4 linked regions of the Homo sapiens genome follow. The protein of the gene in region 3 interacts with the protein of the main gene of each other region in a pairwise test. Each region holds a gene or a part of one and is shown on either strand. Other genes may lie near its edges.

Evidence for each region.
Region 1: the proteins of OSGIN1 (region 3) and MEIS2 interact in binary tests that used the Homo sapiens proteins (3 or more experiments, as listed by UniProt).
Region 2: the proteins of OSGIN1 (region 3) and SAXO1 interact in binary tests that used the Homo sapiens proteins (3 or more experiments, as listed by UniProt).
Region 4: the proteins of OSGIN1 (region 3) and CAPN3 interact in binary tests that used the Homo sapiens proteins (3 or more experiments, as listed by UniProt).

Annotation. Positions count from the first base shown.
Region 1 is NC_000015.10:36,888,687-36,894,570, forward strand, and holds the end of MEIS2 (homeobox protein Meis2), read right to left. Parts: intron 3,774-5,884; coding exon 3,487-3,773; 3' UTR 518-3,486; downstream 1-517. UniProt on the Homo sapiens protein: Involved in transcriptional regulation. Binds to HOX or PBX proteins to form dimers, or to a DNA-bound dimer of PBX and HOX proteins and thought to have a role in stabilization of the homeoprotein-DNA complex.
Region 2 is NC_000009.12:18,939,181-18,946,218, reverse strand, and holds part of SAXO1 (stabilizer of axonemal microtubules 1), read left to right. Parts: intron 1-4,379; coding exon 4,380-4,582; intron 4,583-7,038. UniProt on the Homo sapiens protein: May play a role in the regulation of cilium length. Stabilizes microtubules at low temperature.
Region 3 is NC_000016.10:83,963,211-83,966,841, forward strand, and holds the end of OSGIN1 (oxidative stress-induced growth inhibitor 1), read left to right. Parts: intron 1-1,851; coding exon 1,852-2,797; 3' UTR 2,798-3,122; downstream 3,123-3,631. UniProt on the Homo sapiens protein: Monooxygenase catalytic activity. Involved in regulation of cytokinesis; promotes RHOA activity, probably acting locally at the midbody in late cytokinesis.
Region 4 is NC_000015.10:42,354,502-42,362,529, reverse strand, and holds the start of CAPN3 (calpain-3), read right to left. Parts: upstream 3,030-8,028; 5' UTR 2,725-3,029; coding exon 2,416-2,724; intron 1-2,415. UniProt on the Homo sapiens protein: Calcium-regulated non-lysosomal thiol-protease. Proteolytically cleaves CTBP1 at 'His-409'. Mediates, with UTP25, the proteasome-independent degradation of p53/TP53.

The sequences.
Region 1 (5,884 bases), on a different chromosome or scaffold from region 3:
CCGCGCATCCAGACACCCGGACACCGGACTTTCTAACTGAGTGGCAACTTGTAGCGGAGGTCCAGGCTCCTTATCAAATTGCTGGCCTGCTAGCTAATGGAGAACTTGTGGAGGATCCCTGTCCAGTCCCTTTGAAGGAAGGTCCCTCCTTTGACAGCTGCTAGAGATATTAGCCACATTTCCCTTCCCAAATCTGCTCCGGGTTAACAGGCCCGCGGGGGCGGGAGGGGGTGAGGAGGCAGGAGGATCCTGGTGGACTCTAACGAGGGTGAGAGCTGAGGGGCGTGAGGGGTGCTGACCTAGGGGGTGGAAGAGAGGAGGGGTGGACGGAAGACACAGACTTTCCTGGTCTTTTCTCTCTTTTTCGTTTAAAATGTGGCTTCTTGCTCAATTCCCAACCCTTAACAGATGGCGACTGCAGTTCTCTCAGAATTTCTTAAAGAAAGGGAAACCTTTGGAATTTATTTCTGCTTTTGCTTTTTCATATAAATAAAAAAGTGTTTTTATATTACTCTTGTTTTGGAGAACATAAGCAATTTTATTCAGACTACAGTATTTCCTTTAACACTATATGGTTGTCAAAACACCATTCCCAGTTTCTTTGCTTTTGACAGCTGAGTCTTTCTTAAATATACCCAAATCGGAACTCTTTACACTAAATAGTAAACCCGAGATAGGAGCAAGTGCCTTCCGGGGTGGTGTAAAAAAAGCATTATAAAAATTGGACAAATCTATCACTTCTCTGTGTTATCATGGGGTTGGGGGTGGGGGAGAGCAAGGTAATGCAAACAAATATTACAATTATCATTCATCTCCAAATATTTAAGAAGGTTAAAGTTAACATGATAGGACGTGGGTTTGACGAATAAACTAAGCATGAGATGACTTTATTCATTAAAACCAAGAGTTGAGAGCTCTGGTCTCTAAACTTCAATGAGATAACTTGATAATTGCATAAAACACATCCTAAACACGAGCCAATTGCCAAGGAAACCCTTCAGAATTTACTGAGTGGAAAGAAAAAAAGGTTCTTTTTCCCACCTGATGTGAGAGTTGATTTATAATGGGGAATTTTCATAGTTTACATAAAAGTATTTAAAGTAAAAATAGGCAAATATTTAAAATTTACAAAAAGACTTCATGTAAAATAGAATAGCAAAAATGAGAGGGAAGCTATCTCTCTTTCCCAAGTGGCACTGAATTTCTCTATTAAGTTAGTTTGTGTCAGAAGCATTATTTCTATGTTTAAACAGCAACACAACACTTAAACTGAAATGTATTTGTAAAAATTCTACCTGACTAAATATAACACAAAACAATAGAAGTGTATTTCCTCGTTCATTTATATAGAACCTCCATAAATGCTGTCTGAAATGGAAAGATGGAAGAGCCCCAAATAATAACTATGGATTTCTTCCAAGTTTAAGTTTGCAGAGATGATGAATAATTTCCTTAGCCGGTTGACATCACATATCTAGCCAAAGTATATGACATTATTCTTTCTAAACAAAGATTCAAAATTTAAGAGTTAAAAAATTCCAGGATAGTATATTTATTTGAAAATTGAGGGGACATGCCTCACCCTTTTTGCACACTTTAGCAGACATTGTTTGTGCAGTATCAATAAGCTAATGGTATAGATTTCCAGGAATGTTGCATAAAATTTTGAAAATGGCATTATACCGTCCATTTTGTTTTGTTTTGTTTTCAGAAAAAAGTTTAAGTTTAGTTATCAAATCATCACACTAGCATCCCTGCACATGGATGTGTCTGAAATAAAAATATACCACAATATAATTTATAAAATATTAATGATTAAGTAATCTTTTAAAGTCAGAATTTCAAACTCCATAGAAGTTGTTTACTTATCTATGAACACCCATATGTAAATTTTCATTTACATATCCAACAATATTGTAGTAAGACAGGCAGAGGAAAAACACAGGCAGATAAATTACCTTTGAGCACAGACATTATTTCTTATGTTGTAAAATTAACCCTGAAAAGTCCTTTATTCTGGCAGAGGATGCCCATGAAAAGCTTTATCTGAAAGTATATATTTTTTAACGTCATGCATCTAAAAAGGAGGTTGAGCATGTTCAAGGGGATCTTTCAACCTGGCTCATCATGTACACATAGTTTCGTACCTTTAGAAGTTTTCTGCTGGTGGAACTTATAGGTCAAATAGACATTGAAAGGCTATAGATGATTACCTTAAAAATTATTGATGAGTTTAAAATATACTCAACTGCTGGGGGGAAAAACCTACTTTTAACACTGTATAGAGTTGGCATTGTGCAGTCTTGTCCTAAAACCATTAAAAACGCAAAAGCCTAACAAAAAATCAAAAATGAAATATTTATTACCGCTTTTTGTGACTTAACACCTTTTTTTTTTTAACATAACGTCACAGTCCTCATACAAGTATTTTAATGTAAATTTGACAAAGCTTAAAGGTAACAGCATTTTCTTCTAGTGAGGAACACGTGCTGAGAAAAGAAGAATTCATGGACATACAATACCAATTCCACAGCAGATCTGATACTAGCAAAAACATTCTTTTTTTTTTCAATTGAGGTAAACACATAGAATATCTAACATGAAACAATTAATAGACCGAACTCTGTACGAAGTTTGTTACAGTATTCTCTTGCTCCTTTTTATCCCCCAAGCTTTGAGTTTCTGATAAAGTCCTAGTTATGGTTCAATGACCATTAATAACTTTTTTTTGTGTTGAGGAAAGCTGCCCAACTTAAGATTGTTTTGTCCACAACCAAGGCTCAGAACTCCTGGAAGAAGCTCCTGCTCTGTCTTTAAATCTTCATTGGCAAGCTCTTTGAAGAAGAGTCCCCCAAAAATAATAATAAGAATTGGCTTATGAAGCACGAACTATAAAGATCTGTTTGAAACTAAAGGACACATTTATGGAGGAACAAAGGCCGGGCATGAAAACACATTCTTGAAGCTGGAGTTCGAGTGATGAGGTTCAGCCAAAAGTTCATCATGATCTCCAGTGTGGTTCTTTTCTCATTGGCCCAACAGGTTTAAAATATATACCACAGTCTCTCCTGGATGGTGAATTCACTGATGAACCAAAACAGTCATTCTTTTGGGAACAACACACATAGTGTGGAAAACAAGGATATATTTTTTTTTCTCTTCTAAAACTATTTGAGGCAACATAACGGCGTGATCAACAGAAATGTACAAGTTTAACTTAGTTCCTATATTTATACTACAGTAGTTATAACTCTCGGAGTCTTTTTCCAGAGGATCTTTACATGGACAGAATTGTCTCAGTCAGCCCATGATTTCACATTTGTGTTCTTGTTGCATTGGTCCTCTGTTGCTTGATGAAAAATGACAAAAGTAAAAAATAATCACAGCTGTCTGGAATTTCATATTAAGTGTCAACATCTGGTCAAAGTTCAGAAAGTCTTAAAATAGTTTTTGCGTGTGTTTCCTTTTCCCTTGAGTTCCCTTATACTATTGGGCATGAATGTCCATAACCTGTCCGCCAACATTGGGATCTACAGAATTTAACATTGTGGGGCTCTGTGCTGACATAGTCATTCCAGGGTGGGTAGGGGGTCCTCCGTGCATCATCATGGCTGGGTGGTGGGGATGGCTTGGCAAATATGAATGCATTGGGGGTCCATGTCTTAATTGAGTAGGGTGTGGGGTCATCTGGGGAGGAGTGTAACTTGGCTGTGCCATACTCATTCCCATAGGACCACCCTGAGAAACGTAGTCCCCTGGCATGCTCTGCAAACCTGAAAATAGAGAGGGAAAAAGAAAGCGGGTCAAATTCCTAAACATTTTTATACTTTACCCATCAAAGATGAAAAGAAAAAAAAAAAAAAAACAACAGACACTGCAAATCTTATACCTAAATTTAGCTGCAGATTCTTGCCAATGTTTGCAGACATTCAAATTGTAGTTTGCATTTAATTTCATCGCACAGCAGTATAATGCAACACAACAGAACTAAATATTTAATGCAACTAAATGTCATAAAGTGGAACTGTTTTTCAAAATGGTATTCAGTACATTTCTTTGATAAATGCAATAAGAATATAAATTTTGAGTCGAGTTTTATCAGTTAACTGTTGATAGATCATTTATTTTTCTGTGTTGCATTTGTAGACCTGGACAAAAATTGTAGATAGTAGAATAAAATAAAATTGACATCTTATCATATCTATATTTCCTCATGAAAAATTTATTACACAAAACATTACAGCATATTCATTTTGAAGAAATGAGCTTTTACGTGTATTTAAAATGAAGCCCCCTTTTTGAATTAGAGGCATTCCTATAGCAGTACACCCAAGAGATTGTAAAGGTCAAAGGTAAGAAGTCAATGTGAGGTCATATGACATGCCCGGTAGTTTATCTCTGAAAATCCCCCCAAATAATGCCTTGATATTAGGAATAAAATGTAATAAATGTAGAAATTCTCAATTGAGATATGCAACATTCAAAGTTATGAGTTAAATGGTGGGAAGTCAGCAATTGTAAGGATTCTGATTTCTCTTACAAGTTACCTGTTTATTGAATTAAGGTTATATTTACTGTTGCACATCCCCGGATCTAAAAGGACAGCTTTATTCACCTCTATTTAACCTCCAGTGCATACAGTTGAAAAGCTGAACAGATGTTTTTGACACTGTAAGCTGGTAATCTAAAGGCTTATATGCTGCAGTCATTTTGTTAAGTAGATCCGCAGTCCATTATTAACAGAAGTGGCAAAACCATCTAAAGACAATAACACAGCCTGCATAGTCCCAGCTCTCTGTTTATTCTACCACAGCAGCCTGCTCAATGGATGATGATAATTAAGTACCAAATATACCATATTGTGTGGCTGCATAATCAAATCAAGAGAGGATAATATTCTTCTGTATTAAGCTATTAATGTAATTGGTCATGAAGCATAAAATATGTTATGTAATTAAATAGGCTAGAAATTATATGGCCTATATTAAGAACTATCCAAGCTGAGCAAATGTTTTCTCTATAGCTGTTTTAGGGAACATTGCTTTCTACATTTTTTGACTGCATTAGTAAAGGAAGGAAGGAAGGAAATTGGCTTCATCAATGGTGTGCCGTGGTGACCCCCTGAGCTCCCCTATAAAATGTTGGCCTCTATTTACATATAGAGAATGATTTAATCAAGGTACGTGTTGTTATATTCAGCCTCATTAAACAAGGAAGTTTCAATGTTATATGAATTTTTTTATGCTCTGGTGTCTTCAGCAAAGGATATATCTTGTTGGCAGACTCTGAATTTTTTTCAGATGTCAAAAACACTTGAAGCTTTAAAGTCTAATGGGTTTCTTAATCCAACTGCAGCCATTCAGCCTCAGTGAAAAATCCATTCCTTCATATTCAGTTGCTCCTAAATGTCTTTCCCTTTAAATTTATTGACTGACTTTCCTGTCTTTCTGTCTCATGTCGGAAGTCAGTAGGCACATGTAAAAAATAATCAAAACACACCGACTCCCTAGTGAAGAATCAATGGTGTCACTGCTGTCATATATCTAGACTAGGCATAATGAACTGCAGCATTTCATCTTTGCATATAAGATAATTTGGGCATCAATCGTATTCTGACAGATTTATGTCACTCAAAGGACAGTTCTACTTTTCCTTTTTTTTTTTATCGCTTCATTGAAGCCTGCTTAATTTCTCTCAGTCAACTGGTGCCCCCAAGACATTATTTTTATTCTTAAATGTCCAATATCTGCCTGATGTCTGTGTTTGTGCACATTGGGGCCACAGTAAATAGGCTAAAAGGCAGTCCCACCTGCTTAAAACACACGCAGGCTTGTCAGTTGGCCTTTTCAAAAGTGCACATCAGTGTCATCTGTGACTTCAGAGA
Region 2 (7,038 bases), on a different chromosome or scaffold from region 3:
CCGCAACTTCCTCCTCCCGAGTTCAAGCGATTCTCCTGCCTCAGCCTCCCGAGTAGTTAGGATTACAGGTGTGTCCCACCACATCCAGCTAATTTTGTATTTTTAGTAGAGATGGGGTTTCTCCATGTTGGTCAGGCTGGTCTCATACTCCTGACATCTGGTGATCCGCCTGCCTTGGCCTCCCAAAGTGCTGGGATTACAAGCATGGGCCACCGTGCCCGGCCAGCCTTCTGGTTTTTGTAGTCAAGAAAAGGTGATTACCTAAAAGATCTGCCTTTTAGCTGCCCTCCCTTGCACAGACTGGAGCTGACCTTCAGGCTGGAAGCTTTGAATCTTAAATAGTTAATGGAAAATTAAGCAATGAAGCCTCACACAGTGCCATTTTCTGCTTCCACCTGTTGGCTCTCCCCAGAATCTACCTTTTTAGAGCTTTAAAGTCATTTGAAATAGTTTGCCTAGGGTTTATATGAAGTGGTGACAGATATTTGCCTCAGCCTTAGTGGGAGTTGAGGGACTCAGAGGGCAGAGGAGAAGACAGGTGCTATGTAACTTGGATTCTGGAGTGCATGGGCTTGGAATCCCATCTGTTATAGTGAAGGTAAGGAGGACTCTGTGTCCCATAAGGACCAGGGGCATGAATCAAACCCTGTGATTCAGCCAAGGATCTTTTGCAGCACAATGGGATGGACTCCCCAAGCTGCCTAGGATGGGAGAATAGTTTCTCTAGAAGGGTGCCTTTTGACATTGGGAAGTTTGAGAATAGCATATAGAAGTGACAAAGTCAATCAAATCAACTGACAAAGAGCAGAACCCCATAGAAGACATGGAGAAAAGATCATGAGGAGTGGTATCACGGAAGTCAAGGGAGAGAGTATTGAAAAATTGAGTGAGAGGATGGATGCTATGAACAACCACAGTGGGATAAGGTTGAGAAGCAGCGGTTGGGTCTGGAAAACAAGGTGATGCTTGGAGTATCCAGGAGTGAGGGGAATCAGATCTGATGGGTGGGACATGAGGAGAGGAAGGCAAGTCTGTACTTGTAGACAACACTTTCTGGAAGACAGAAGGGAAAACTGGAGGAGAATGGAGCTCAGTGAGGATAGTGTCTTGTTTTACTCTTTACCTTTAAAGATGGGAGGTAACACTCAATGGAGAAAGGAGGCAGTAGGGAGGAAGAGAGAAAAGCATGGCCTAGGAGATGGTCTGCAGATGAGATTCCCGAGAAAGAGGGCAGGGGTGAGAGAGGTTGGCTTTGGCCAAGAGGAGGAACTCCTTTTAAGATGGATTCCATTTTAATATAATTGATTACTTGGACACACTAATATATCTTCAAGTTTGCATAAATAAACATTAAAAACAGGTTTAAAAAAAGTGTTGCATGGCCCTTTGTCATGGTGAAAATCTTCATTTCCCACTGCCAGGCTCAGGACCCTAGCTCACTGTTACGTTATTTCCTCTTTCCTTTTGTCAGAGAGTTGTCAAACACCTTTCTTCAGCTTTGCTAAATGATTTGAAGTCAAGTTGTTATGACTTCCCCAGCAGGACCACTCCAACTTTTTACTTAACTCTGAGTTTAACTCTTGGCCTTCCCTACTCTATAACTTTTATAGCTACTTACCTAAAAGAAACTTACTTCTCTGACCAGTTTCTTTTTCTTGGTTCATGTCACATGTGCACAGAGACTGGGAAATGTACCACAGAAAGAGAGGGGAGATCCAGTGTTCTTAAAAAGAAAAGCTAGTTAATTGGAGCAATTCTGGGGAGACTAAAATATAGACTTTTCTTTTACGTGAATTTAAAGGCTGTAAGATTATGTGTGATTGGGGACATGCAGTTATGTTGCGGTTAATGACAGGTTTCAGTGAATGTTCTCAACATAAAAACATAATGAGGAAACACATAAATTCTGATTAAATTCACTCCTAAGCCACAGTAACTATGTTTGGGTAGGTTATAAAAAAGTCAAACTTTAAAATTTTTCTTCTCTTCAGAAGTAGATACCGCTTCCCCCCACCCCCCATAATCATTTGCCTTAGTTATGGCTGATCAATAAATTAAACCATAGAGGAACACTTACAAAGGAACTTAAATTTTATACTGGAAAAGGCGATTGGCTTTTGTCTTTGGGAAACCAATTTCAGAATAGTCTGTGAACTGGTGAATTTGGTTTTGGGCTTTTGTCTGCTCTTTTCCGGTAGAAGCCGTGGGAGATGCGCAATAAGCGTGCTTTAGTTTTCAAGAGTCTGGCAGCCTTTGAAGGGAGGTTTCTGCGGCATCCCTGAGAGGAAGCTGGTCCTCTTGGTCAGAGTAACTGCAGAAGAGGCTGCTATGGACTCTGTGTGCAGGGTCCCTGAGAGTGGCAGCCTCACAACTGGAAAGCATCCCTAGATGCTCTGAGGTTGGGTGGGCTCAGCACGGCAGCTCAGGCGCCCAGCTTTGTTCCTCACTGCATGCCCTTGGTACCTCCTGATACTCCTTGGAAATGAATAGGGTGTAGGCTTAGGTAGCCATCACTGAGCACAGGCTTTTATAAGGGTTTAGGAATGTGTGGTCTCAGGCTGCCTTGAAACCTGTCCATCCCTTCTGAGAGTGAGGAGAGCTCAACTTCCCTTGGGAGCACTCCCTTTAGAATGTACACTTTCTGACCAAGAGTCCCTTTCCACTCAGCTGGTTTTCAGATGGAGTTTTCTGGGCATTTTCATTTGTCTTTGTAGCCTAAGGACTTACCCTCTTAGTTCCCTGCTACAATTGGTTTAGTGCTGAATAGACACCAGGGTGTAGTACTTGCTCACTGAGAACAGCAGAAGTAGGAGCTGACCCTTGGCTGCTTGTTCAGTCCATTCCCTCCATAAGCCCCGATATGTACAGTCAGCTTCCAGACACTTCAGGCTAACAGCAGGGCCCCTAGGAAGGGAGCCCAGGCTGAATGTCCTATAACTGCCGCTAAGATATATTTTTAAATCTACCCAGAGGGTGTTAGGGGAGTTCAACTGAAGCATCTCCCATTTCCTCCTTAGAGCCCTAGAGAGACTAATTCTCCTGCTTCCTAACTTCCTTCTCCCATCCCACTAAGCATTTTCAGGACCCGGTTCGGGTTTACTGACAATCATGTGTATAATTCACGCAAGACAGGTTACAGTGGAGCGTGTTACCTTTGCTAGTCAAGCATGGCTGAGTAATGCTGCTCCAGATTTTGGCCAGGAAGTGGGTTTTATTGGTGTTTGGGCCTAACGTTTTCCTGTCCGGAAACCTTCCCCTTCCCTTGACAGGGATGTTCTGGCAAGCACCATCAGGAAAAATCTACCTTCCCTTTGTCCAGTTGAATAAATGGGTTCCAGGCAAAAACAGTTTGTTGTGTAAAACAGACACCCTTCAGAGGGAAATGTTAGCATTGAGAGGTGGGAAGTTGCGAGTGCCCTGGAGGGCAACACAAGTCCGAGCTAAGCCCTGGCTCCTTAGGGCGGTTCCTGGTGGGCATTGCAGTGAGCATCTGGGCCTTTTTATCTGGGATGCTTTGGGGAGGGACTGCTTCCTGTTTAGTGAAGACCATTATACTTTTTCGATCCTATTGTTTTGGTACTCCCTGAAACAATGGGGGCGCAGACACCAGATAGCAGAGAAATGAAGGAGTCAGGGTTTCCAGTTATTTCACTGTTTTCCTCTTCTGGGTTTTCTGTAGGCTAAGTAGAGGAAAGAGATAAACATTAGCAGGAGAAGCTTTTGGGAACACAGAGAAGGTGGCAGCGGCACCTGAAAGGAAGATACCTCCGCAGTGAAGGGGTTGGGTGGAAGGAAGGTGGAGAGCGCAGCAGTAGAAACGGTGGCATTGTGGTTGGAGTGCAGGGTTTTCAGGTGGGGTGGGGATCGTGAGAGACAAGGGTGAGTCAGGCAGGAGCCAGGTCCAGAAAGGCTTATAAATTATGCCAGGAAGTTGAATTTTACCTGGAAGAGTTTTAAACTGGGGAAAGCCATCTGATTTCCATTTAGAGAGTTTATTCTGGCCACATTATGGTGATTGAATAGAAGTGGTAGGAATGAAGGAGGAAGCTCAGGTGGCAGGCTGTTAGTGAGAAATTGTCAGGATCTGGACCAAGGGGAAAGAAAAACCAATGAGGTGGAGGGGCACTGGTGGTGATAGACTCTGGGGCCGTGAGGAAAGGAGGTCAAAGATGAATACAGGTGTCTGAGTTGGGTGAGAAGGAATTGATGGTACCCTTCTCAAAAGTGGGAAATAGAGGAGAAACAGTTCGGGGGAGGAGGGAAGGCAGGTAGAGTAGAACAGGACTTCTCAGCAAATGTTTGTAGAGTTGGGTTGAGCAGAAAACATAAGCCTTATCGCAAGCCAAGGACCCCAACAGCATGCACTTGCTTCCTTACAGGAGAGATTTTGGGCCTCACAAAGTGGCACCAGTGAAGGTCCACCAGTATGACCAGTTCGTCCCGAGTGAAGAGAATATGGATTTGCTCACGACGTATAAGAAAGATTACAATCCCTACCCTGTCTGTCGAGTGGACCCCATCAAACCTCGGGACAGTAAATATCCATGTAGCGACAAGATGGAGTGTTTGCCTACTTATAAAGGTGGGAGAGCACAGAGGGGCAGATTGGGGGAAAGACAGGCTGAGCCTGTGTGCGGGCCAGGAAATGTGTTTTATGTGCATACTCAGTTAGTGCAAGAGTTGGCAGACTACTTCCTACGGGCCAGATCTGGCCAGCAGCCTGTTTTTGTATAGCTGGAGAGCTAAGAAGAGTTAAGCATTTTTTTTTAATAATTGAAAAACAAATCAAAAGGATATAATTTGAGGACTGTGAAAATGATATAAAATTGAAAATTCAGTGTTCATGTTTTATTGGAACGCAGCCATATTCATTCATTTACGCAGTATCGATGGCTACTTTTTTTTTTAGCATAGTAGCAAAGTTGAGTAGTTGTTGACAGAGACACTACAGTCTGTGAGGCATAAGACACTTAATACCTGGCTCTTATACAAAATATCTGCCAACCCCTGCCTTAGCTTGCAGTTTGAATCCTATATTGGGGGAAGCATTTCAAGTTCAGGCTAAGTTAGTTTCTACCACTGATTAAGTGATTGATTCATTCACATGTTTAAAAAATATATCAAAATGTAACATACATATGGAAAAGTATACAAATTATAATTATAGAGATCAATAAATTTGCACTGAACAAATCCATATAAACAGTACCCAGATCAAGAGATAAAACATTACTACTCCATTTCTGTTACCCTCCCCAATGAGAATATAACCATTATTTTAACCTTTAATACTTTAAATTAGTTTCGCCAGTTTTGAACTTTATATAAATAGGATTGCTTCTTTCTTTATTGAGTATCTATTGATATTACCTATGAGGTGTGGTCCTAGAAACTGAAGGAAGCATAATGGCCTGCCCTTGACTTTCTAGCCTAGTGGAGAGACAAGATACGTGGTCATATGTGTTTTGCTAGCAGACAGCCACTCTATGGAGCTCAGCTGCAAAGACTGAGACCATGAGACTGGAGACCAGGTTTGTAATCAATAACTCATGCTTATGATACCAACCTTTGCCTTGCCCTAGGAGGACAAGCTGAACAGTTCACGGACCTCTAAATGCTGTGAATAGAGAGGGCCACTTTTATTTAGTCAAGCCAAGCATTTAGGGTGAAGAGGGTGGTGGAGGTAGGGAGGTTGGAGGGATGTGAGCTCCTAGAAGGGCCTCTAATTCTGTCATCCTGGAGGACCCTGTGCTTAGTTGAGTTTCTCTGATTCTTCCAGGAACTGAAGACTGGATTGGCGTGGGCCTCTTCAGCAACCTGGGCTCTGCCCTTTTATTTTCTTTAGCTTCTTCCTCTAACACTCCCCCATAGATAGCTACCTTTGGTCAAGCCACCTTTTATCAGCAGTACAAGAACTGACTAATATTCTGAATGTTATCATACCCTGAAATGGCCCCACCTCTGAAGTCTTTGTGCACATCGGCATCCTGTCCTCTGGGCTTGTCCTCTTATCTCCTCCCACCACGACAGTCCTTGGCCTTTTTGGGACCTCCAGTCCATTGACGTCTTAATCCTCCCTCTTACCACCAGCCGCTCCTGTGTCTGTCCCTCCCCATGGAGTCTCTACTTCATGGCCTATCTTTGGAGCCCAGCTCCTACTGATAGCCGAGAGTCCCTCTCTCTTCAGCCCTTTTGCTGTTTCCTCCTAGCAAAGCCCTAATCCTGTTTTCCCCATGTCTACACCTGGGCACACACCTGAGCATATCTCCAGTCTTGTCAGCTTTTACTCATTTTCCACAGAAAGGGAGCAGAGCAGTCTTCTATACATGGCAATCTGATCTGACCACTCCTTTGTATAAAACTCCTCAGATAATCATTTGATAAAATCATTATTTTGTCTAATCATATCATTTTATCAAACGATAAAATCATTATTTTATCAAATCATATTATTTTATCAAATCATATGATCCTATTACGATAAAAACCCAAACCTTTTCTGCCTCCTCTGATGCCTTGGAAGTCCTGGTGTCTTCTAAGCCCCTCTGCTCCAGCCTCAGGGCCTTCTTTCAGGTCCCTTCCTACATTTCTTTTCTGCTTCAGGGCATTTGTTTAGCACATGTGATGCCTTCTATATAGAATCCTTCTGCTTCCTTAATCTAGCACTTATCCTTTCAGCTAGCAGCTGAAAGATCACATTCTGAGCCCTTCCGCCATGTCAGGCTGGATGCTATATGGGTGCCTTGCACTCCCCTGTCTTATCATGCATTGTGTACTTTTAATGCTTCCTTTAATGGCCAGGCTGTAACCTCCAAGGGGCAGGGATCTGTTTGTCTTTTTCTTTCCCAATTACCCTCTCACAGCAGGCACCACACAGGAGTCCATACAACCAGGTGTATGACCATGGGTAGGGTGTTGGGGGGCACTTTTGCCTCTACTGAATGCATTCTTCTCCTTTTTAATCCAGTGTTTACAAGAAGACCAGAAATAAGGCAGCACAGACATTGAGCTAGTGGGATAGAGGAATGAAACTGCAGT
Region 3 (3,631 bases):
ATGTTAGTAGGCAGCCAGAAACTTACATTTCGCTTGTAAGCACAGCCTTTTATAGGCTCATTTTGCATTTTCACATTGTATCCCAAGCGTTTCATGTGGTGAAGTCACAGCGTTCAAAACCATCCTTTTACATGGCCTCACAATATTCCCAAAGGCGAGTGAGCATCCCCAGTCCAGCAAATCTTCACCGAATGCTTATTATGTGCCAGGCCTTGGGCTTAGACGTCAGAGCACAAAACCACCGCAGACACACCCCCTGCCTCATGGCACTGCCAAGGTTACCCAGCCCCTGCCAGCCCTGGAGCATTCATTCTTTCCATTGTGTCATTATTATAAATAACTCTGCACAGAACATGCTCTTGGGACCGTTCTGTGTCACAATCTTTACAAAAACTGAGAAAAGAATGACTGCCCACAGAGATAAATTCCAGGGTCGCAGACGGGCTGCGCTGGGTTGACTGGCACGGCCTTGGGGGTCCATTGTCAGCTCCTGCTACATGTAGCCGGACGGCAGGTGGCACAGGATTCTCCCGTATGGGAGTTCATCTTGAACCATGAGCCCACAAGCTGGGTAGATTAACTCATCTAAGGTCACACAGTGAGATACAGGAAGGTGCTAGAATGATGCAAAGCCTGTCATTCAACCGCCACAAGAATGGGCCTGCAGTCACTGCCCCTGGAAAGAGTGACAATCCAAACAACAACAACAATAATAGAATACCTCCTGCTGCTGCGTGGGCTGGGAACGATGGTGAGTGCGTCACATGGGAGTCTTTAAATCAACTTTAAATCAACTTTTTGACTACATATAGGCTGGGTGCGGTGGCGCAAGCCTGTAATCCCAGCACTTTGGGAGGCCGAGGCTGGTGGATCACTTGAGGTCAAGAGTTCGAAACCATCCTGGCCAACATGGCAAAACCCCATCTCTAATAAAAATACAAAAATTAGCCAGGTATGGCGCTGCATGCCTGTAGTTCCAGCTGCTCAGGAGGCCGAGGTATGAGAATCACCTGAGCCCGGGAGGCAGGGGCTGCAGCGAGCTGAGATCACACCACGGCACTCCAGCCTGGGCAGCAGAGTGAGACTCTGTCTCAAAAAATTAAAATAAAATAAAATAAAATAAAATAAAATAATAAATTGGCTACATATAGAAAAGTACGTAACTCCTGTGAGTACAGGTTGATGAAATTTCTCAAGGTAAGCACAGAGAATGAAGAAGCAGGCCCCCTCCCAGAAGCCCCCATGCCCTTTCTGATCAGGATCCCATTCCCCATCCCCGGAGGTAACCCCTCTCTTGACATCCAGCTCCATAGATGAGTTCTGCCTGTTTCTGAACTCTGTAAAAATGGAATCATACCATATTTAATCATTTGAGGTGACAATCATGGTGGCCTATCCTTACATGGCACTTACTTCCAGTCAGGTTCCATCCTAAGCACTTTGTGTTTGTCAGCTCACCAAATCCTCCCCACGACCTCACGAAATAGGTCCTGCCACCAACATCTTCCTCATTTTGCAAACTGGGGAAACAGACACAGCTCCCTGATGGCAGAGTCAGGATTCGAGCCCAGGCAGCGGGGCTCTGGAGGCTGCCCTCTGAACCCCACCCTACACCACCCTAGAGCATCCTACACCACCCTACACCACCTCTCCTGAGGGAGGCACCCTTGTTAGCTCCATTTTACAGAAGAGGAGACTGAGGCTTAGAGAGGTTGAATTACCTGGCCTAGTCCTACAGCTACAGCCTAGTCCAGCTCCAGGGCCTGACACTGCCCTGGACATCTCCCGTCCCACCCAGCCCCCCAACCCCTAACAGTGTCTGACTCTGGCGTCCTGCATCCTCCCCAACAGAGGTCTTCGCAACAGCCGGGCCACTGCCGGGGACATCGCCCACTACTACAGGGACTACGTGGTCAAGAAGGGTCTGGGGCATAACTTTGTGTCCGGTGCTGTAGTCACAGCCGTGGAGTGGGGGACCCCCGATCCCAGCAGCTGTGGGGCCCAGGACTCCAGCCCCCTCTTCCAGGTGAGCGGCTTCCTGACCAGGAACCAGGCCCAGCAGCCCTTCTCGCTGTGGGCCCGCAACGTGGTCCTCGCCACAGGCACGTTCGACAGCCCGGCCCGGCTGGGCATCCCCGGGGAGGCCCTGCCCTTCATCCACCATGAGCTGTCTGCCCTGGAGGCCGCCACAAGGGTGGGTGCGGTGACCCCGGCCTCAGACCCTGTCCTCATCATTGGCGCGGGGCTGTCAGCGGCCGACGCGGTCCTCTACGCCCGCCACTACAACATCCCGGTGATCCATGCCTTCCGCCGGGCCGTGGACGACCCTGGCCTGGTGTTCAACCAGCTGCCCAAGATGCTGTACCCCGAGTACCACAAGGTGCACCAGATGATGCGGGAGCAGTCCATCCTGTCGCCCAGCCCCTATGAGGGTTACCGCAGCCTCCCCAGGCACCAGCTGCTGTGCTTCAAGGAAGACTGCCAGGCCGTGTTCCAGGACCTCGAGGGTGTCGAGAAGGTGTTTGGGGTCTCCCTGGTGCTGGTCCTCATCGGCTCCCACCCCGACCTCTCCTTCCTGCCTGGGGCAGGGGCTGACTTTGCAGTGGATCCTGACCAGCCGCTGAGCGCCAAGAGGAACCCCATTGACGTGGACCCCTTCACCTACCAGAGCACCCGCCAGGAGGGCCTGTACGCCATGGGGCCGCTGGCCGGGGACAACTTCGTGAGGTTTGTGCAGGGGGGCGCCTTGGCTGTGGCCAGCTCCCTGCTAAGGAAGGAGACCAGGAAGCCACCCTAACACTCGGCCAGACCCGCTGGCTCCCAGGCCCTGAGAGGACAGAGATGACCACATCCCTGCTGGATGCAGGACCCGTCCAAAGATGCCCCGGGGAGGGGTGTCAGCCCACGTTGCTGGCCTTTGGGGTCAAGAGGAGTAGGGATCCCAGGCTGCCCTGGACTTAGACCAGTGTCTGAGGTGGTAACAGCGGCCGCAGGCCAGGGTTGGCCTAGACCTGGGATTTGTGGGGAAAGCTGCTGGTGTGACCAGCTGAGCACCCAGCCAGGAGACCTGCAGCCCTGCGCCTTCCAGAAGCAGGTCCCAAATAAAGCCAGTGCCCACCTGCTCTCATGCGTCTGAGGACTCTGTGCTCGGAGGGAGCTGCGTTCCCGGAACCCTGCACTGGGCTGGGGGGAAGGGAGGAAAGGGGATTGTGGGAGGAGTCCTGGGGCATGTGGTCCTGGATGAGGTCCATGGCTGGGGCCTTGGGGTACAAAGGATGGTGCCCCAAGTGTGGGGGCAGTTGAGCGGGCAGCTGTACTAGAGTCTGGGGGTGGGAGTGGCGGGTGTGTGCAGGCAGTGATGTCCAGGAGGGCGCTGCAGCCCCGCCCCCTCCGCAGCCTGTCCCAGGCCTCCCTCCTCTCTGTTCTGCCATGCGGCCTCCTTTCAGTCCCTCCTGCTGGCCAGGTCTCTGCCTGCCCCAAGGCCTTTGCACAGAGAGTCCCCAGCCCAGGACAGTTTCCCGCCTTTCTTTAACTCCTTTTCCTTGGGATGTCTCAGCATAAGAATCACTTCCTCTAGGAAGCCTCTTCTGACACAAACCCCTCCACTGCCGTCACAGCAAATACTCCTTTC
Region 4 (8,028 bases), on a different chromosome or scaffold from region 3:
TTAGTGACTCAAACAGTGGAAAATCCAGGATCTTTGTTGTTGGTGATGGTGGTGGTGGGGGCACAATTTAGAACAGACAAGTCTTCTGCACCCCTCATTTCAAACATGGACACTGCCCAATCTAGTACCTAGAGCATAACAGGCCCTTAAAGAATTTTTATTAATTTGTAAGTCTCGCTTGAAGACTCAAGTCCACCAATGATTTCACTGAAAACAGTATTTGTAGGTTTTAATTTTCCCCATTCTGAGAAAGAGCTTTTATTTTTTTAAACTTTTTTTATAGAGATAGGGTCTCACTATGTTGCCCAGGCTGGTCTCCAACTCCTGAGCTCAATTGATGCTCCCACCTCTGCCTCCCAAAGTGCTAGGATTACAGGCATGAGCCTCCATGTCTGGCCCAAGAAAGGGCTTTTAGGAACTCCCTGCCTGGGAACGCAGGCCTATCCTGTCTCACTGGTCAAGGCCCTTGGGCGTGGGTTTTCACTCACCAGCATCAGCTGAGTACCCACTATGGGACTGGCCTGAGCTTGGTGAGGGGGCCTCAAAGATGAACAGGAAGGATTTCTGCTCTCAGTGAGAGGAAATCAGTCATGAGAAAGATTGAAGGAAGTGACACCTGAGCAGAGGTTCAGATAGGAACAAAAAAGGCATGTCAGGCAGACAGACAGCATGAGCAAAGGCCTCCGGTGTGAGAAGACTTGGAACTACAGAGCAGCTAAATGTCCAAGCACTGCTGGTGTGTCAGGATCTGGGGAAAGAGGATGGACATGGGCCTGGACAGGTAGGCAGGGACCAGCTGAGAAGGGCCTATGGCTTGGCTAAGGAGTTTGGACTTGTCCTGAAGGCAGTGGGGGCCGAGAGAGGGATGTCACTGAAGATATTTCAGCAGGGGGTTGTGACATGTCCAACTACTCTGATAGCAGAGTAGTGTTATCTTCTAAACTGAAGGCCTTCAGGACAGTTATGGGCCTTACCATAGAACCAAGAAGAGCCCCTATGGAATATACAGGGTTGTCTAGTACTCCACCTCAGGTTTGTTGTTGTTATTGTTGTTGTTTGAGACTGGGTCTCACTCCTGTCACCCAGCCTGGAGTGCAGTGGCATGATCTCGGCTCACTGCTGCCTCAACTCCCCGAGTTCAAGTGATCTTCCCACCTCAGCCTCTGAGTAGCTAGGACCACAGGCATGTGCCACCATGCCTGGATAATTTTTTGAATTTTTAGTACAAAAGAGATAGGTTTTCACCCTGTTGCCCAGGCTGGTCTCTAACTCTTGGGCTCAAGCAATCCTCCAGCCTGGGCCTTCCAAAATGCTGGGTTTATAGGCATGAGCCACCATGCCTGGCCCACCTTAGGTTAAAGAAAACCATGGCTAATCAATAGTATTGGGTCTCAGCTTGTCATCATTTCCTCAGAGAGGGTTTGTCTCCCTGGACCAGGTTAGCTCTCCTTGCCACATGATCCTGTGGCACCCAGAACATCGTCTCCTGACAATGTCACTCTTGTTCAATGCCCATCTTCCCTTCAGGACCCTAGGTTCCAAGACAGCTGGAATTTTGGTCTTTCTTACTCACTGCTGTCCCCCCAGTTGCTTGCCCAGTGCTGGCACTAGTAGATGCTCAATAAATATTTCTCGAATTAAGAACAAGAGTCACACTGGAGGGATGATCAGAGAGGTGAGCCAGGGGAATGTGATTTCCCTCCTGGCGATCACTGTAAATGAAACCCAGAGGCTGGGAGAGTTTCCTAAAACAGAAAGTTTTAATCCGGGCTCTGTCATGTGCCCACTAGATATATTTCACTCTAGTGTGCCTTGACTCCTCACTTATGAGGTGAGGTAGGTGGACAAAAGCGATTGCTAGGTCTCTCTCTCTTTAACCCCAACATTTTATGCATGAAAAAATATTCCTTGCCTATGACTCTTCTCTTTCTAGGGTTTCTGTGTTTCAGAAAGATATGGCCATTGGTAAATTAAAGAAGAATAACATCATGATTTTAGCCAGAGAAACTGAAATAATCTTACAAAGATGAATAATATTTAAAACGAACAGGTACATCTGGGCTGTCTGGAATTTGTTCTGAGAAAGGAATATTTATTTTTACAGGATGAATTAAACTGAGTTCCACCCACTTTTATAAAAAGCAAGATTTTTTTTTTTTTTTCAGAGAGAAAGAGCCAGAGCATAAGAATCAGCCCCACCTCCTGCGCTCTCCCTCTGGATTTTGCTGAGATTTGGTGAAATATCTGAGACCTGTTCCTCTCCTCCCTGCTTCACACTTAAAGACAGAGCCCAGCAGAGCTGCTGCCAGGATCCTTCCCCCAGTGCCCATGTGCACAGCTGAGCTGCCGGAGGTGCTGAGTGAGAGGACTCCTCCGTGGGGGGAAAACCCAGCCAGCAAGCAGGAAGCTACTCACCGGAGGTCTCTTCCAGACGAACTGGATGGGGAACTTCTGGCTATAAAAGAGAGAGGTCTCATCCGGTGGGAACTCAGGGTCCACATAAAGAACTTTCTTTTCTAGACATTTCTTGTGAAGTTGCTCGAATGTCTTCTCTTTCACTCCGATAATAGGAAAATTGCGGCTGATGATGGCTGAATAGATGCCACTTGGGTTTCCACCCCCAGCCTCAGTGGCCTTGCTCTGGGCCGGGTGAGGAACTGGCCCTGGGGACCGGGGCTCAGCCGCTGTCCTTGGAGCCACAGATGCGCTAATGACGGTCGGCATGGCAAGTGGCTTTGGAAGAAAAAGCTTTTTAAAGAAAATAAGATACAGCTACCTTCAAGGAAAGGAAGCAACTGCAAAGGGGAAGTTGGAGTAATTCTGTCATCTGAGAGAAAAGTGTCCACATCCAGTTCAAAGTTGAAAGCCCATCAGAAGGTCGTACAGGTTATGTCCATCTTAAAAACCGAGCTGTGATTCTGAAGCCATAAGTTCTCCTGAGAAATGAGTGCTAAAGGATTTCTGAAGCAATGTTGACTTGGGGGTCTCCTACCAGCAGCATGCATGCCAGAGGGAGAGAGAAAGAGAGTGAGGGTTGTGTTTCAGTGGCCTGAAGATGCTTGAGCCAGGAAAACTAAAAATAGATGTGAAGAAACACTGTGAGTATGAGAGCAAGAGAGACTGCATGGTAGAGAGAGAACCTGGCTAGGGACATTTCTGTTGCCATGAAGTGCTGGTGTTGCCAGAAAATGAAAAGGGAGTATCTGAGTAAGGTGAACACTGGAAAGAAGCTGAGAACTGCTGACATGTTATTGAGTAGGCAGTTATACAGACCACCCAACTACTGGCCATCAAATGAATGGAAAACAATATTGCAAAAAAGCTAGTTAGGGTGAACGGGAGGTACTGAATTCTACAAAAATATTCTGTGAATTTTAGAGAACATGATTTTTAGTCCTAAAATTTTAGGATATCAGAACATTATTCAATGTTAGATTTGGTATCTTTTTTAGAATGTTCTTGGGTCAGCGCTCATTGGAAATGTCTGCATGGAAAATGCTACTCAGCAGAGTCCTCATTTGAGAAAATCCCTGTCTCTACCTGCACACTTGACCTTGCCACCTCTTGTCTCTCCCCATCCACAAAATGAACACTGGGACTGAATCTGCTAAAAAGTGGTCCTGCTGGGCCATGTGGCTCACGTCTCTAATCTCTGCACTTTGGGAGGCCGAGGCGGGTGGATCACATGAGGTCAGGAGTTCGAGACCAGCATGGCCAACAATAGTGAAACCCTGTCTCTACTAAAAATACAAAAATAAGCCGGGTGTGGCGGCGGGTGCCTGTAATCCCAGCTACTTGGGAGGCTGAGACAGAAGAATTGCTTGAACCCAGGAGGCAGAGGTTGTAGTGAACCCAGATCACGCCACTGCACTCCAGCCCAGGTGACAGAAAGAGACTCCGTCTTAAAAAAAAAAAAAAGTGCACCTGAGCAGAGAAAATCCTCACTTAACATCATCGATAGGTTCTCGTAAGCTGTGACTTTAAGCAAAATGATGTACTGTATAGTGAAACCAGGCTAACTGATATAAACAAGAGTTAAGTCCCTACAGCACACGGTATGTTTTCGTTAAAGTCACAGTTTACAAGCACCTATCAATGATGTTAAGTGAGGACTTACTGTACAGGTTATATGTTGACTCATTCAGCCATGCCACATTAGGCATCTGAGACAGAAGTTGGAATTAGATACTGAACCAGACTGTCTGTCAACTCCTGGGATGTCACACCTGGTTTCAGGGCTCTTAGATGAGAGCATAAGTGGCTCTGGGGAAGGGAAGTGCCTGCCTGGCCTCCACCTTGTCTTCTACCCACAATAGCTGCTCCCTGGGCTGTAAGGAGATGAGCACATTTCAAGTATGGCAGAGTGGAGGCATGTCCTAGGCTGCAGTCATGCCTGTTCCCATGCGACCAGTCTCAATAATCCAAGATTAGAGGCTATGGAAGAAGGTGGGAAGTGACAGGTAAAATAGGGAGTACTATCAGCCTCCTGATCCCTGGGATTGCGGCTTTGAAGGACTCTATGTCTGGGCTTGCAGGAACCATCAGCCTAGCCATCTGTCCCTCCAAGAAAATGCCCAGGGCTTTTTACTAGTCTTGGAGAGGCAGAATAGAGGACAGTGGTCTCTGGTGACTGACCACCTCGGTTCAAAGTCTAGGTTGGCCCCTTATTGGCTGTGCCTGTGTAACTTTAGGTGAGTTATTTCTTCCTTTCTGTCTCAGATTTCTCACCTATAAAATAGGTACAATTACAGTCATTCTGTTATTAGGTTTTGGTAACAATTAAATAATTTATGTAATACATTTTACACAGTGCCAGGATTTTCTTAAGCACTCAATAAATGGTGTTGTTAGAGAAGACCTGAATTTAATATTACTTTGGAGTTAGATCAGGTCGAATGCTACATTTACTCGCTGACGCAAATCAGCATCCACTCAATGGGCATTAACTGAATATCTGCTATGTGGACAGCACAGGAATAGGTATAATCTGCCCAGGCTCATGTGGTATGCAGCATCTCCAATCAGAAGCTGGCCTATCTGCCTGCAACAAAAAGACTGACTTCCACCCTCAAAGTCACCAGTGGCATAGACAGCAAAGGTGGGGTTTCTTTCCCCCACTGTCATAAGTTTGGGTCCCAGCCTAGCATTCTATCCCACCCTGAAATTCAGAGCACTGACCCACACTGTATTGTTTTTGCTTATTTAACTTCCCGTTTGCCCATAAGACCGTGGAGCTGGGAAGTGGGTTCCCATTTCCCTCTCAGGTTTAGAAGGCCCTTAATAAATGCGTGTTATATATCTGGTGAATGAAATTTTCCTATGCAAAGAGAAATTTCTTACACTTCTGGCTTTGCCAGTGCAATCAAAGTTTCTCTGCTGATCTGCTCCAGGCGAAGGAGCTGTCTTGGGCCGCATACCCACTGAGCTTTCTTTCCTCAGCTGTCTCAGCCAGCACCATCTGTGAGTAACTAACAGAAGTGTGTGACACCAGCGAGCCTCTTGTCAGAGCAGGGTGGGCATATCAAACACAGAAAGGGCAAGGTGCCATTCATTTTGCTCTGTCAGTTGTTGTGGATAAAACATTCTCTCAGATGAACAGGTCCAAACTCAAGGTTTATTCAATGGCACAGCTGTGGAAACCAATGCTATCAGGGAGAAGTCCAACTCGAGCCCATGAACAAAGGGCAGATAATGAACACATAAACAACTGCACATTTCAATTCCCAGAAGCCCCTTCAAGGATAAAGAACTAGTTTTTATAACATATTTCACCCACGGTCATGTAATATCTGTGGCTGGAATGGTTTCTGCTGCACAGCATTGCCAACTAATGGCTCTGTCTTTTCCACCAAGAAGCATTTCTTTGATTACTAACACTATTGGAAGCAATGTCTTTGCTTATCATTATAATACCTCTCATTCATTAAGTGCCTACTGGGAGCTAGCCACTTCACAGAGACCTTTAAAAAACTTTTTATTTTAAAATAATTTTAGACTTACAAAAGACTTGCAAAGACTTACAAAAGAGTTGCAAAGATAGTGTCCTCCAGTCTCTGATCATTCCACAGTCTTTGTCTCTCATGACCGTGACACTTTTGAAGAGTACTTGTCAGGTTTTTGTAGAATGACCCTAAATTTGGGTTTCTCTGATATTTTTCACATGATTAGACTGAGGTTATGGATTTAGGGGAAGACTGTCACAGATGTGACATGGCTACCTCCTCAAACCATATTTGGGGGCACATGATATTGATAGGTTTTATTACAGGTGATGTCAACTTTGATCACTTGCCTAAAGTGATGTTTACTGGGTTTCTCCCTGGTAATGTTACTATTTTTCCCTTTCTGTACACATAAGATATTTTAAATTTGTAGAAAAACTCTGCAAGTTTCACTAAGTCCATTTTACAACTGAGGAAACTTGAGATATCTGCTGTATTTTGACAGTTAAGTATCAGAAAACTCACAAAATTTTAGAGATTATCTCTCTTTTTTTTTTTTTAGATGGAGTCTCTCTCTGTCACCAGGCTGGAGTGCACTGGTGCAATCTTAGCTCACTGCAACTTCCGCCTCCCGGGTTCAAGCGATTCTCCTGCCTCAGTCTCCTGAACAGCTGAGATTACAGGCATGTGCCACCATGCCCTGCTAATTTTTGTTATTTTTAGTAGAGATGGGGCTTCACCATGTTGGCCAGGTTGGTCTCGAACTCCTGAACTCAAGTGAACCCCCTGCCTCGGCCTCCCAAAGTGCTGGGATTACAGGCGTAAGCCACTGCACCCAGGCTAGAGATTATCTCTTTTCTTTAACAAAGCCCAGAGAGGTCAAATGCCATGGCCAAGATCACTCAGCCAGTTCACTGTAGAAGCAAACTAGACTCCAGGTCTCTTGATTTCCTTGGAAGTAAATGCTTGACTAAGATTTAATTGATGTGAATTAGGTATAAGATCTCTGTATCCTTGCATGTAAATAGTCAGGCTCCCCTTTCCCTGGCTCTGATTGGACAGCAATCTAATACCGTCGGCCTGGGTGGAAACAACTGTCAAGAAGCAGCTGTTGCACTTTGGGAGGCAGAGGCAGGTGGATTACATGAGGTCAGGAGTTCGAGGTCAGCCTGGCCAACATGGTGAAAACCTTTCTCTACTAAAAATACAAAAATTAGCTGGGCCTGGTGGAGCATGCCTGTAATCTCGGTTACTCAGGATGCTGAGGCAGAAGAATCGCTTGAACCCGGAAAGCAGAGGTTGCAGTTAGCCGAGATCGTGCCATTGCACTCCATCCTGGGTGACAGAGCAAGATTCTGTCTCAATAAAAAAAAAAAAAAAAAAAAAAAAAGCAGCAGCAGCTGTCTAATTCTGGCAAGTCTTCGTGTGGCACTATAGCCTTTAGCAAGGCTTGTCATGAGACAAGCAGATCTGATATAAGATGCCAATGTCTCTGCTATTTCTCCTAGAATGCTAGCTATATGGCCTCCATTGTCAGTGGCTAATATGATAGCCTGTTTCCAGTGGAGCTGCTGATGGCTTTCTACCCACTGGCCTGAGAAGTTATTTTAGTCTAGAGTAGCCCTTCGAGGGTTTGGTAGGTGGAAATCCTAGGAATCTCATTACTAAGGCTTTCAGGCAGAGTGGTTAATTAGCTAAAAACTATTCAACTCCCAGTGTTTATGTGCTTTGACTGTGTTTCTGCTGCTTATCATTTTGATGCCTTGATAGTGAAAAGGATGTGACAAAGTGAAGGAATTCTGCACACAGACCAAACTCCAGAATTGTATTTTTCTTAAAACCAAGAAAATTCTTCTATATGATCCTAATACAATGCTCAAAAGTAAAAAAATTACCATGTAATCAAAAGATCCCATTCCAATGTTGCCAACTGTTCCAACAGAGGAGGTAAGGCCAGGCACAGTGGCTCATGCCTATAGCCCCAGCCCTTTGGGAGGTCAAGGCAGGAGGATTGTTTGAGTCCGGGAGTTCAAGACTAGCCTGGGCAACATAGTGAGACCCCCACATATTTTTATTAAAATTAAAA